4 linked regions of the Homo sapiens genome follow. The protein of the gene in region 3 purifies or fractionates together with the protein of the main gene of each other region. This does not show direct contact. Each region holds a gene or a part of one and is shown on either strand. Other genes may lie near its edges.

Region 1 (3,500 bases), on a different chromosome or scaffold from region 3:
ATGCATTTCTTGGTGTGTTTTAAATAAATTCAGTACAGATTTAACCCTCACCCTGCCCAACAAGCCAGGAAAGGTATATCACAATTTCTTTTTTTGAATTGGTGGTGTTAGCTTTAAAAAGGGAGGTGTCTATCCTGGTCTTTTTCACCATCAAGGATATGATGAAGAAAATATGAAGTCCACTAAAGGAAAGGCTTATATTAAAGCAAATGATGTTCTTTCTTGATTTAGGCAAGGGGCCTGGAGAGTCACATAAAATCCTATCTGAGCAGCTGGTTTGAGGATGTTGTATGCCCAATCCAAAGGGTTGTTCTTCTCTTTCAGGAAAAGCTTACCTTTCTGCTACATGCTGTAAGTACTGCCAAATGAGAGCATTTCCTTAACTGAGAATCACTTTGGATGATTTAGAAACATACTCATTTTCTCTGAACATGACTCCCATCCCTCCCCAAATATTCAAACTATGCTTGCTATCAAGATAGACCACACTTTATTTTCTCAGATCTAGAAAGTGATATTACTAAGGTAGAGTTGAATTTCAAATGCTGAGTCTTCCTAATAGGATAAAACATTTTAAAATAATTACTTTTCCAAGTGATCTGGGAAAGGTATAGTTTCCAAAACAATTTGAAAAGGAAAACAAAAATCCAGAGCAATTTTGATTCTATAAAATGTTAATGAGCAGTGGCTGAACAAGGCTCTGGAGAGCTTGTGACCAGTGCCCATCAATTGTTGTCCAGTGTGGTAGGGACTTATGGGGACATTTAGTCATGAGTAGCTGCTCAAGAAAAACTGGAATATATGTACCAATCAGGCTTTATTTTTCTCTCATAGGCTTTGAGTTACACTCCTGTTGAAGTTAAAGAATCAGATGAAAAAACAAAGAGAGACATTAACAGGTAAAGAACAGTTTTTTCAAAGAGAAAAGCTTTTCCACAGCAAGATTGACATCTGTGTTTGTAAACTGCTCCTTCCATCCCTTCCCCACCAGCCCAGTGCAAAATAAATTTGTTTTCATCCTTCCGTCCTGCAATATTGTTTGTGGAAATGGACTTGTGTGTGTGGCAGGTTTCTGAGTGTGGCCAGTCTTCAAGGACTTATTCATGAAGGCACCATGACTTCTTTGTGCATGGCCATGACAGAGGAGCAGCATAAGTCTGTGGTCATCGATTGCAGCAGCTCCCAGCCTCAGTTCTGCAATGCAGGTGAGCTACAACCTCTGAAGCAGCCTTCCTACATCTCTTGCGAGTCCCCATCTTTGCACTGAGAGCCTATGATACAACCTTATTCTTCCTGCCTTGTGCAGTTTTACATGGTTATCTCAAACCATGAGAAACCACTTGGTGAAAACAATATAATTCTAGAAACATGGAAATCATGCCATGCCTAGCAATTCCACACCTAGGTACATAAAGAAATTCTAGTATGTGTACACAAGGAGATGAATTTTAAAATGTCCATAAAGGCATTACTTGAAAAAGCAAGGAATTGGAAGCAATTTAAGTGTTTATCAACAAGAAAACTGATAAGCTGCTATATTCATGCAATGGAATATAACAGAGCAGTGAAAAAGAATGAACTAGAGCTACTTGTGTCAATATAGCTCTCAAACATACTATTTAGTGAAATAGCCATAAAAGAAAAAATACATAAAAGTTTTAACATATGCAGAATAATGTAGATAAGGCTTACACGTGCAAAGGTATATGGGAAAAGTTTAAAGACGTCTGTGGGAATGATTATCCTCTCTGATGGGAAAGGAAGGGGGATGTGATTGGGAAGGGGCATACAGGGGGCTTCAGCCATTTTGGTATTCCTTAGCCATGTGGTGAGCACACTGTTTTTTTAGGCCATTATACATGTCTTAAATAATTCATTATAGGTGTTTTTATAAAGAAATAAATGGGTCAGGCGCAGTGGCTCACACATGTAATCCCAGCACTTTGGGAGGCTGAGGCAGGTGGATCATCTGAGGTCAGGAGTTTGAGACCAGCCTGGCCAATATGGTGAAACCCCATCTCTACTAACGATATAGTTAGTACTCCGGCTGCACTCCAGCCGGGCAACAAGAGCGAATCTCCCGTCTCAAATAAATAAATAAATAAAGCTTTGTAAAATTTCATTTTATTTAGTCTCTCTGAAATGTTTTATAGGAAGTAACCGGTTTTGTGAGGATTGGATGCAAGCTTTTTTAAATGGTGCCAAAGGAGGTAACCCTTTTCTTTTCCGACAAGTACTGGAGAACTTTAAACTAAAGGTAATTAGTTGGCTGTGTGCCAAGTGCCACATGAAATTTTTGTCTGAATTTTAATTAGTACCAGTGACAGAGTAACAAATTGCTTTATAGCTGTGATGTCTGTTAATTAGGATGTTCTCAAAACTGGAATTATCAGAAGACATTTACTTTATTTTTTGGCAGCTTCTGTATACATATCATTTCTAATAAATTGGGTTGAATGCTTGCTTATATTTAAGGAACATCAGTCTTACAATTTGTGACTTAACTTAGTTGGAAAGCACAAAAAAACTGGTTCAGTGGCTAAGTTTTCAAAATTCTGATGGGGGCTGGGCGCAGTGGCTCACCCCTGTAATCCCAGCACTTTGGGAGACCATGGCAGGTGGATTGCTTGAGGCCAGGAGTTCAAGACCAGCCTGGCCAACATGGCAAAACCCTTTCTCTACTAAAATTATAAAAATTAGCTGGGCCTGGTGGCGCATGCCTGTAATCCTGGCTATGTCAGGTGGCTGAGGCACGAAAATTGCTTGAACCCAGGAGGCAGAGGTTGCAGTGAGCCCAGATTGTGCCACTGCACTCCGACCTAGGTGACAGAGTGAGACTCTGTCTAAAAAAAAAAAATTCTGATGGGGACGTGTTGTCACCTTATTTAGTTTTGTTTGTTTGTTTTAAGAGACAGAATCTTACTCTGTCACTCAGGCTAGAGTGCAGTGGTGCAATCATGGCTTACTGCAGCCTTAACCTCCTGGGTTCAAGCAGTCTTCCTGTCTCAGCCTCCTGAGTAGCTGGAACTACAGGTGTGCACCACCACACTCAGCTAATTATTTTTATTTTTTGTAGAGACGGGGTCTTGCTGTGTTGCCCAGGCTAGTCTCAAACTACCGGCCCTTAGGCAATCCTTTTGCCTGGGGCTCCCAAAGTGTTGGGATTACAGACATGAGCCACCATGCTAGGTAGATTATTTTAAAGTATTTTTATTTTGTATAAGAGATTTTTGGCTGCGCGTGGTGGCTCACGCCTGTAATTCCAACACTTTGGGAGGCTGAGGCGGGTGGATCACTTGAGGTCAGAAGTTCGAGACCAGCCTGACCAACATGGTGAAACCCCGTCTCTACTGAAAATACAAAATTAGCCTGGTGTGGTGGCACACACCTGTAGTCCCAGGTACTTGGGAGGCTGAGGCAGGAGAATCACTTGAACCCAGGAGGCAGAGTTTGTGGTGAACCGAGATCAAGCCATTGCGCTTCAGCCTGGGCAACAAGAG
Region 2 (3,500 bases), on a different chromosome or scaffold from region 3:
TAGTGTTGTTATTTTAAAGTGAATATTTTTAAATTTCTCATTGTTAGTTTCTTTCTTTCTTTTTCTTCTTTTTTTTTTTTCGAGATGGAGTCTCGCTCTGTTGCCCAGGCTGGAGTGCCGTGGTGCCATCTCAGCTCACTGCAAGCTCCGCCTCCCAGGTTCACGCCACTCTCCTGCCTCAGCCTCCCGAGTAGCTGGGACTACAGGCGCCCGCCACCATGCCCGGCTAATTTTTTGTATTTTTAGTAGATACCAGGTCTCACCATGTTAGCCAGGATGGTCTCGATCTCCTGACCTCGTGATCCGCCTGCCCCAGCCTTCCAAAGTGCTGGGATTACAGGCGTGAGCCACCGCACCCAACCACGCCCGGCTAATTTTTTGTATTTTTAGTAGAGACGGGGTTTTACCATGTTAGCCAGGATGGTCTCGATCTCCTGACCTCATGATCCACCCGCCTCGGCCTCCCAAAGTGCGGCGATTACAGGCGTGAGCCACCACGCCTGGTCCTCAGTGTTATTTTCTAATCTGGTAAATGTTGACAGATTTAACTCAAAAACAAAGGCTCTTGGGGATGTGCAATAATTTGAGGGACTTGCAATAATTTTCAAGAGTGTAAAGGAGTCCTGAGACCAAAGGGTTTGAGAACCGGTGGTCCCACTTACAGGGGCCTTGTCTTGAGACACAGCAGGAAAGAGGGGTGTTAACTGGTGGTGTCAGCTCTGTCTCCAGTGGGTGATTTTTGCCTCTCTGAGCCTCAGTTGTCTTACCTGCAAAACGGAGTGAGAAATGGTACTTCCTACCTTGTTGGTGCTCAAGAAAGTGTTCACACAACACGAATCCCCATCCTAACAGAATCCTGGCCAGGAGCCCAAGTTATTTCCTGTAATCTACGTTTGAAACGAATGCGAGGAAGCAAAGTGTGCTAAGTGATGCGGTTTCAAAAGCTCCTCTTAAACCCCAGCATTTGTCTTCATGAATATTGCTTTAAAGTCGGCCTGACTGGTTTTCTCCCTCTGCTCCGTGCATGGCCCAGAGCTGATCAAGGAAGTGCTGTCTCTGGAGGAGAAGATCCACGACTTGGCCCTGGAGCTCTACACGCAGAGATCGCTGCTGGTGATGGGGCGGGGCTACAACTATGCCACCTGCCTGGAAGGAGCCCTGGTGAGCCCCCACCCCCAGCCCCCACCCCCACGGAGGACAGGCACAGGAGACCCTGAGGAGCCAGCGGGAAGGAGGGCAGGGCGTTGGGCTTGGGGAGGGCCGGGCCTAAGGACCCCTTGGCCAGTCCTGTGAGCCTGCGCTGAGCACCAGCTCTCCACCAGGTTTCTAGCCCTGGGCACACAGAGATGGGTGAGGCAGGTGCCTGCCCCCAGGGATCTCCCAATCTACTGAGGAGAAAGGGACAGGGCGCCTGGGGTGTGCCCCTCCGGCTGTCCAGGCACTGCCAGGGTCCACTTGGAACAGCTCACTCAGACCTCATGAGCTGCTTCTGAGAGGTTGGCGGTTGCTATTCACCCTCATTCAGGAGGAAACAAAGCCTCTGAAAGCTTAAGTATCTCACTCAAGATGACGTAGGGGACCCGAATCAGACCTGAGTCCATGGGGCCTTCGCTTTTTTCCACCAAAATTGAGGGGTGGGTTCTCCGCAGAGTTTCCTTGTTACCCCTCAAACTTCCAAGGGGAGTTTGAGATCCTGCAGGAATTAACTTCGAAGGCCTTGCTTTTTCAAAAATTGGTGACAGGCCATTTGCCCCCTGCAGCATTAAAGATCCACGCCAGGAAAGAGAAAGCTGATGGGGCAGGGACAGGGTGCCAGGGCCACAGGGCTGCCCAGAGGGTGGGCAGAGAGCCGTGCAGGGTCCTGCATCTCGGACTTGCCCTTTCCTCGCTGTCAGCATGCCATGCACGGAGCAGATGCTCAGCCCAGGTGACGGGGACAGTGCTCCAGCTGAGGCTGCACTGGCCACCAAGACGAGGGCATTAACCGTGGCCCAGCTGGGCTGCCATCCTCTCCCATCTCCTCCCCACCACCCCCATTTGAAAGACAATGCTAGGCTGGCACAGTGGTCCACGCCTGTAATCCCAGCACTTTGGGAGGCCAAGGCAGTCAGATCATTTGAGGTCAGGAGTTCGAGACCAGCCTGGACAACATGGTAAAAGCCCATCTCTACCAAAAATTCAAAAACTAGCTGGGCGTGGTGGTGCACGCCTGTAATCCCAGCTACATGGGAGGCTGAGGCAGGAGAATCGCTTGAATCCAAGAGGAGGAGGTTGCAGTGAGCCAAGATCATGCCACTGCACTCCAGCCTGGGAGACAGAACGAGACTCCCATCTCAACGAAAAAAAAAAAAAAGAAAGAAAGAAAAAAAAAAGAAAGACAATGCCAGTTACAAGTGGTTACCGGAAACATTCAGAGTTGATTTCCTTGGTCTTGGTGGGGAGTGCAGGGCTGTCCTCACTGAGCTCCATCTCCTGCACCTGCCCCCTGGAGATTCTGACTCCTGTTAAAGAACAGGCAGGTGCTGCTTCTTGGAGTGCAGTAGAGGCAAGGCCTGGGGTGCACTGTCAGTCCCCAGATGACTCTGCGTCATGGGTGGGGGCTGAGCTGCGGTGGCTGAACGTGCTGGCGGGAGATGCACATTGCAGCTATGCCTCCGCATGAGTCTGCTGAAGGAAGAAGCGTTTAGGTGGCTGCTGGCACGAGCCCATGGTCCTCTGGTCACTGGGAGGCCGGCACTGCAGCTGTCTGCGCCTCCAGACTGGAGCCGCACTCCTTACAGTGTGGCCCTGACCTAAATCAGCAGTGCTAGCGGGGAGTCGAGAGATGATTTATTTGACTGTCTCACCATTTCAATGACGTGGATTTGTGGTAACTGAATAGAGATGGATCTACCTGAACACAGGAAAAAAATTAATTCAAATAACACCCCAGTTTGTGTGATTTTGCTTGGAACCACTCTTTAGAAGTTATTAATGGGCAAATGCTTAATCAGATAATTAACTGAAGGTGTAGCTAAGCTGAATACGATGCTGTCGTTATACACGTGGCTGGCTAGGGAGGAGCAGGGGGTGAGCTAGGCTGACTCCGACTTGTTTGTCCTAAGGGGTGGCTGTGCGTGGGACTGGAGAGAGACAACAGCAGTGCCCGGGGCTGGTGTGGGGACACAGAGGTTGTGTCCCGGGCTGGTGCATGCTCTGGATGGTAGCCAGGCCTCTCCCCAGGCCCTTGCTGGGTGTCCTCAGTGCTGTCAAGCACTCCAGGCATCTGTCTGCCTTGCAACCCTTGGCTCTCTGCCTTCCAGAGTCATCCTTCCCCTGGTTCCCCTTCTTCCCCTCTGGCTGATCTGCTCCAGCCCCATCTGCCCAGTGTGACTCTGATCTCACCTCCTGTTTCCAGAAAATTAAAGAGATAACCTACATGCACTCAGAAGGCATCCTGGCTGGGGAGCTGAAGCACGGGCCCCTGGCACTGATTGACAAGCAGATGCCCGTCATCATGG
Region 3 (3,500 bases):
TTCAACTCCAAGCTCCTTTCTGGCCATTCCCACAACATCTGCCCTTGGAGGCTTTTGGCTTGTCTTTTTTCTCTGGAGATTTATTCTCTTTTCTGCAATTACTTTCCCGCCCTTCCAACTCTGTAATTCATTTTCAAGATTTAAGATTTGCTCTTTCCCTTTCCCTGAGACTCGCTTGCCTGTTTCCCATGGTCCCAAGGATGGGTGCTTGATGGCTGGCCCACATGGGAGCTTGTAAGGCTTTATGTGTGAGATGGAGTCTCTTCAAAAGCCTGGAAGACAAAAGGGGCTCGGGGTCCAGAGCAGTGGGGCAGGGGATCAGGACTATGGCCATTTGCTAATGCTGAATTCTTGAAATGCACTTCAGGATTGGAGGGTCCATCCCCATTGTCTTCTCCTATTTCTCCGAGTTTCTGGCCCAGGAGAAACGAGGGGAGCATTTGAGCTGGCTCTGCATGTTTTGGATGATTGGTGGCGTGTACGCAGCTGCTATGGCCTGGGCCATCATCCCCCACTATGGTGAGCAGCCCCCGGAAATCCACCCCAGGTTATCTCCCTCCTCCCTCTTCTTCTGTGCTCCCTGTGGTGGGTTCCCCCAGCCTCTGGCCTCTCTGCTGATGCTGTCACTTTCTCCCTACCAGGGTGGAGTTTTCAGATGGGTTCTGCCTACCAGTTCCACAGCTGGAGGGTCTTCGTCCTCGTCTGCGCCTTTCCTTCTGTGTTTGCCATTGGGGCTCTGACCACGCAGCCTGAGAGCCCCCGTTTCTTCCTAGAGGTGATGGGGCTGAGCTGCATGGGGTGGGGTGGGGTGCGGGCTGTGGAGTGTGGACGGCAGCAGGGGCTTCTGTGTTCAAACACCAACTGGAGTTTGATTTGATCCTGTTTGACTGCCTGCCTTCCTCACAGAGTCCACTCTCCAGGGGACTTTATCTTGCATTCTTTGCCTTGGAATGTGTCCCTGAGGGGTTCTTGGGTGGAGAAACCAGGGGACCTCTTTACCCATGGATGACTTAAGATTTTGCAGGGAAGGGCCTTGGCCCTGTCCTGCATTTACAGCTCAAGAGACATTCCCACCCCCTATACCTTCCCCTCCTAACCCCAGCAGGATTAGGTCTTTGACTACATGCTTGCCCATCATTTCCCTTACCTTTGGTTTTTACATTCCTCTGTACTATGGAATTCCCAAGACCTGTGCTTGCCTTTTTCCCCTGGACAACACTCCCCACCCCCAACCCGCAGCTCTTGCCCAAGTCTGATTGTCTTGCTATACCTCAGCTTGGGGCTCTTTCAGAGTGGTGAGTGCATGCCCATAGGTCAGGGCTTGGTGGTGGGGTTGAGGGCTGGGAACCATTTAGTGTCCTGTGACTACAGAAGCCAGGTGGGAGGGAGGGGGTCTATAACTCTGGGTCAGGTAGGGGCTGACTTGGATGTGGGGATTGTGTCTTTGGCTCTAGAATGGAAAGCATGATGAGGCCTGGATGGTGCTGAAGCAGGTCCATGATACCAACATGCGAGCCAAAGGACATCCTGAGCGAGTGTTCTCAGTAAGCCACAGCCCTCCCGACTCAGACCTCCACGCCCTGCAGCCCCAGCCCCTACCTGGCCCCTCTCTGAGTACCCCCCACCTCAGACCACACTCTACCGTAAGGAGATTTTCAGGGTATCATATCCACCTCCTGCCTCCCATTTTGCTAATGCAGGGGAAACTGAGGCGCCTGGCCGATGTTGGGAAACACAGAGTGTGTGACTGCCCACCCCTTCTCTTGACCCCAGGTAACCCACATTAAGACGATTCATCAGGAGGATGAATTGATTGAGATCCAGTCGGACACAGGGACCTGGTACCAGCGCTGGGGGGTCCGGGCCTTGAGCCTAGGGGGGCAGGTAATGGTGGACGGGGTGGTAGATAGAAGGGAGTGGGGGAAGTGGAGAAGAAGGCAGGACTGAAGTCTATGTGTGTGGGTGATGGGTGAGCTGAAGGGAGGTGGGAGGGCAGAAAAGTGGGGATCTATGGGTGCTAGAACTTAGTATAGTCAAGGTCTGACTTTGTCTGGTCCCCTGTAGGTTTGGGGGAATTTTCTCTCCTGTTTTGGTCCCGAATATCGGCGCATCACTCTGATGATGATGGGTGTGTGGTTCACCATGTCATTCAGGTGAGGAGATGGGTGGGCTGGGTGATGTGTGGTGGTTGTGGTGGTGTGTGGGCTGGGAGAGAGGTGGGGAGAATGGAGATGCAGGGGACAAGCGATGAGGGAAGGTGCCATGCAGACCCCCTCTGATCCTGCAGCCAGCTCCTCTACTTCGCTAGTTCACTCAACAAACTTGTACTGTAGGCTGACCAGGATTCAGTTTCTATTCTGTGCTGGGATGAAACAGATGTGGTCCAAGGTCCTCCTGGAGTTTATGTTTTGGTTAAGAAGCAGGACGATGAGGCTCGTAATCCCAGCACTTTGGGAGGACGAGGCGGGCGGATCATGAGGTTAGGAGATCGAGACCATCCTGGCTACGGTGAAACCCCGTCTCTACTAACATACAAAAAATTAGCCGGGCATGGTGGTGGGCGCCTGTAGTCCCAGCTACTCTGGAGGCTGAGGCAGGAGAATGGTGTGAATCCGGGAGGCAGAGGTTGCAGTGAGTCGAGATCGCGCCACTGCACTCCAGCCTGGGTGACAGAGCGAGACTCCGTCTCAAAAGAAAAAAAAGAAGTGAGACGAAACTTGCTATGAAGCAGGGTGATGAGAGAAGGGTGGGGGAAGGGCAGTGGGAGCACTTGGGGCTTGGGCTGGGGTGGGGACCTAAGTCCTCAAAGGTGAATGGGAGTCAGACAGGTGGAGTGGGGGTGGCTGGGGTGGAGAAGAGTGTTTTTGGCAGAGGGAAAAGCAAATGCTTGGGAGGTAAGAAAAAGTATAGTGGCTGCTGTGCGAGACCCTGAAGTCCCCCAGGAGCGCAGCAACTGTTGAAGGGAGGAGCAGGGAGAAGCTGGTGAGGCTGGAGAGGAGCAAGGTCCTAACAGAGGTTGACTCCATTTCTCCCTTGTTCTGAGATGATACACATTTCCGTTTTCTCCTCTGCCTGATTCTAATCTCTGAGCCTTGTCTGAAGCCCTGTTGTCTGTTTCCATTGTCCTTGACTCTTCAGCTACTATGGCCTGACCGTCTGGTTTCCTGACATGATCCGCCATCTCCAGGCAGTGGACTACGCATCCCGCACCAAAGTGTTCCCCGGGGAGCGCGTAGAGCATGTAACTTTTAACTTCACGTTGGAGAATCAGATCCACCGAGGCGGGCAGTACTTCAATGACAAGTATGTGGGGACTTTTAAACTTCACTTCTTCCCTGTTCCTTCTACCTCGTCTCTTTTATGAGTCTAGGGGTTCAAGACAAGACATTTGGGGGGCAAACACTTGTGGTTTCTTCTCAATGCCCAGCTTCCCATTACTTCGCTAAAGAGTGAGTCTTGGAGGGGGCATGAGGATGACGGGGGAGTGTCTTTCACCATCC
Region 4 (3,335 bases), on a different chromosome or scaffold from region 3:
AAAATAAGATTTTATAATATGCCTTAATGACACTCCATTGGATGGATGTTCATTTTCTCTTACACTTCTTTAATCCAATTATGCTTTTCTAGAAACTGGACACCACTGATCCAGGTCAAAGAAAGAATGATATGTAAAACTAAATGAGATATTTCCTGACGTATTTTTAATAATTATAAAATTGATGTCATATTAATAATTTCTCCAGTGACTTTTGAGATACCTACCAACCCATATTAAAGGCAATTTTTGAACTGTTCTTGGGTCAGCTTGATCCCAAAGCTGAAGAGATTGAGGAAGGATGTTTCTCCCAGATGGTAAATTATTGAGTAAAGAAATTGCTCAGTTTAATCACTTATGAAGGCTAGGTTTTCCAGTATAATAAAACAAACAGCATACCATAATCCCTTGTTAACTTTTCAAGCTGCTCAGCAAGCATGTTTTGGTGAATATGAACAGAAACATATCAAGTGTGAATAAAAGGAAACAACAAAACCTTGTCAGTGTTTTTGAAAAAGAATACTGCTATACCTGTGTTTTATTTTAAATAAACAGGTTCTGTCATATTTTATCTTCTTGCCAGCAAATGAAGGACATTGTTTCATAAAGCTTCTAAAATGTACATGAATATTTAATTAAATCATATTTCCTTGAGAAAATAAAGTTCATTCGCATTTATAGCAGACAGTTGTGAGGAGCTCATAATTGTCATAAGACCAGGGTAGCCAGTACCGGTTGCTTGTGGAACAAAACTCCTCAATTTTTAAAACTTTTTTTAAAAAATAAACATACAATCATAGGTATTCATTTACTTTAAAAATTCTAAAGATGAAGAAAATTATTGTTTATATATTTAAGTCCTTGTATAAATTACAAAACTCAAGTTTATGTTACAGAGTCCCTTCCCCATAGGAAGCATAAAGCACTTTTGTGGTACCTTTCACCAGTAAATATTTGTATCACATTGAATTTGAGAAACCAAATAAAAGTCGATATTGCATCTTTAAGCCCCAAGAGAACATTCTTCTAAGCTGTCTCTTGTGATGAATGCGTTTCAAAAGTCATTTGATTGCTATGATTTAACTCAATCTCAAATAAAGTTATATAAAAGTAATAACATATTGACTTCAGTAGAAATCTGAAACATCAGTGAACTGCAGACTCTTCTTGCTTGAGGTCAACAAACACCCTTAGGAAGACAACCAAGAGTAGTTTAAGACCAGGACAACAAAATAAAATTATAACAATAATAATAATAAAATAACAATAATACAATAAAAATAACAACAACCAACAATGAGGTAAACTCCCCTTAAAAAAGGCAAAATGTGTTGCCTGGACTGTCAGGAGAGAGTTCGATTGTACCTGACACCTAAATGTTTTTCAAGCCAGAGTTCAGCCAGTTGCATGGTTGAGGCGAAAGTACTTGCCTTGGATCCTAAGCACATCTTATACTGCTTAGGGTCCAAGTTAGGATCACAATGAACTGGATGGAAAATATGCACCACTCCTACTTCTTGGCTTCTGAATGGCCTTAAGCCAGATAGAATGACTTTATTGTAGAGATCTACATCTTCTAGTCCCCAGCCTTGTATTGAGGTATCAAATCCACCTGCACCTAGAAGATCACTTTTGTAAATACAGGTGATGCCATATCCATAGTCTCTCCAAAATCCAGTCTTTTTTGAGAATATGAAGTAATCATCAGTGGGAGGATTTCCCCCGTTTGTTACCTTTGGGTCATACTGGCTAAAGATGATGGGATAGTACACCTGTTGTCCCTGAATTGTATTGTCTCTACATCGTTGGAGAAAATCTTCTCTGAAGATCAAGTCAACATCACAAAATAGCAGCAAAGTGTCATTGTCAAACTGGGCAGAAGCCATTTCAAGACCAAGACCTCTGGAAAACTCTCCCTTCATTGGGATCAGGGTCATTTCTGCTTTGGGGTACTTGTTCTGGTACCCTTTTATCAGCTCAATATGCTTGCTGGAGTCTTGGCCAGAATCCCTACTGAAAAGGATAATGACCAACTTTACATTCTGCTTTGGGATAAGACACATGTTTTCAAAGTTCTCCATGAATCTCAAGAAAATGTCATACCTTCCGATGAGAGGAACGAGAATGTGTACTTTCTTTTCATTGTGCCCTCCCATTTCTTTGGCACCTTGAAAAGAAGATAATATCTTTAAAGAATTAGATATAAAGGAGAATGACTGAGTTTCACTGTTAATACTCTCCACAAGACTGTTGACATCTAGCTCTTCGGTCTCTCTGAAGAAAGGCTTGCTGAACAACTGCTGAAGATAGGCATGACGTCTCACTGGCACAGTCAGTTTCCTTCCCTTGTGTCTTTTGTATAAAAGGAGTAAATCCAAAATGTACTCCACCCCGTGCATGGGGTTAACTCTGCGGTAGCCATACTGAATTTCCTTGAAGTCAATGAGCCGTCCTCTGCTCTTGGCATTCTCATTGATCATCTCCATCACCTGTAGGACGGTATCATCCAGTGCTGTTCTTAAAATGCTACTGAGGCTCTGTCGAGGGGGCTGGTTCTCAGCTGCTGAGTATAGAAGCTTCCCTGTCAGGAACTCCCATTCTATCACTTCATTTCTCTCCCGAGGCTGGAAGTGGTTGAAAGAAGGTATCACTCCCAGCTGCTGGTCCTCTTTGCTCACTTCTGTGTTACTGAGCTTGCTCATCAGGGCACTTTCCCTGTGGAGCTGGATGGTGCGGTAGCGAAGTTCAGAAATTTTGCGGCTGAGCATGTAATTATGCAGCCTGTATTGGTATGCAGGCCTTTTGTTGGGATGAAGTGTTATGGCTGCATGGATTTTGCTATTGTGAAGGTCTTGGATGTAACCCTTCCGATTGTGTTCATAATTTTCATGGAACAGTTGTTGCATCTGAAAAGTAAAATTAAAAAAATCAGGGTTAATTTTAAAAGATTTATCTAAAAAGAAAACCAGCGATAAACTAAAGCATCTAAATGAAAATGTTAATACATTTTTGGTATGGTATTTCATAACAAAAATGGTTTGTAATATTTATATTATTTAAAATTAAAATAGTTTTATTATTTGTAATTGGTAGATGAAATTCCATGTACTTATCATGTACCACATGTTTTGAAGTATATATATATAATATATAGAGAATATACATATAGTGGGATGAGTAAATCTAGCTAATTGATGTATTCATTACCTCACATAGTTATTATTGTGGTGAGAACATTTATCATCTTTTTTTAGCATTTTAAAGTATATAATATAGTTATTAACTATAGTCATCATGTATTCAATAGATCACTTGAATTTATTCCTCCTATCTAA

The links. The genes of interacting proteins can lie anywhere in the genome.
Region 1: the proteins of SV2A (region 3) and C17orf75 purify together in Homo sapiens (affinity purification with mass spectrometry; 2 studies listed by BioGRID and IntAct, with this or other methods). This does not show direct contact.
Region 2: the proteins of SV2A (region 3) and GFPT2 purify together in Homo sapiens (affinity purification with mass spectrometry; one large-scale study listed by BioGRID and IntAct). This does not show direct contact.
Region 4: the proteins of SV2A (region 3) and CHSY3 purify together in Homo sapiens (affinity purification with mass spectrometry; one large-scale study listed by BioGRID and IntAct). This does not show direct contact.

What each region holds. Positions count from the first base shown.
Region 1 is NC_000017.11:32,332,174-32,335,673, reverse strand, and holds part of C17orf75 (protein Njmu-R1), read left to right. Parts: intron 1-231; coding exon 232-351; intron 352-834; coding exon 835-899; intron 900-1,068; coding exon 1,069-1,205; intron 1,206-2,153; coding exon 2,154-2,257; intron 2,258-3,500. UniProt on the Homo sapiens protein: As component of the WDR11 complex acts together with TBC1D23 to facilitate the golgin-mediated capture of vesicles generated using AP-1. May have a role in spermatogenesis.
Region 2 is NC_000005.10:180,304,837-180,308,336, reverse strand, and holds part of GFPT2 (glutamine--fructose-6-phosphate aminotransferase [isomerizing] 2), read left to right. Parts: intron 1-1,033; coding exon 1,034-1,161; intron 1,162-3,397; coding exon 3,398-3,500. UniProt on the Homo sapiens protein: Controls the flux of glucose into the hexosamine pathway. Most likely involved in regulating the availability of precursors for N- and O-linked glycosylation of proteins.
Region 3 is NC_000001.11:149,907,845-149,911,344, reverse strand, and holds part of SV2A (synaptic vesicle glycoprotein 2A), read left to right. Parts: intron 1-367; coding exon 368-519; intron 520-641; coding exon 642-775; intron 776-1,454; coding exon 1,455-1,544; intron 1,545-1,773; coding exon 1,774-1,884; intron 1,885-2,064; coding exon 2,065-2,153; intron 2,154-3,138; coding exon 3,139-3,303; intron 3,304-3,500. UniProt on the Homo sapiens protein: Plays a role in the control of regulated secretion in neural and endocrine cells, enhancing selectively low-frequency neurotransmission.
Region 4 is NC_000005.10:130,183,800-130,187,134, reverse strand, and holds the end of CHSY3 (chondroitin sulfate synthase 3), read right to left. Parts: intron 2,907-3,335; coding exon 1,344-2,906; 3' UTR 501-1,343; downstream 1-500. UniProt on the Homo sapiens protein: Has both beta-1,3-glucuronic acid and beta-1,4-N-acetylgalactosamine transferase activity. Transfers glucuronic acid (GlcUA) from UDP-GlcUA and N-acetylgalactosamine (GalNAc) from UDP-GalNAc to the non-reducing end of the elongating chondroitin polymer.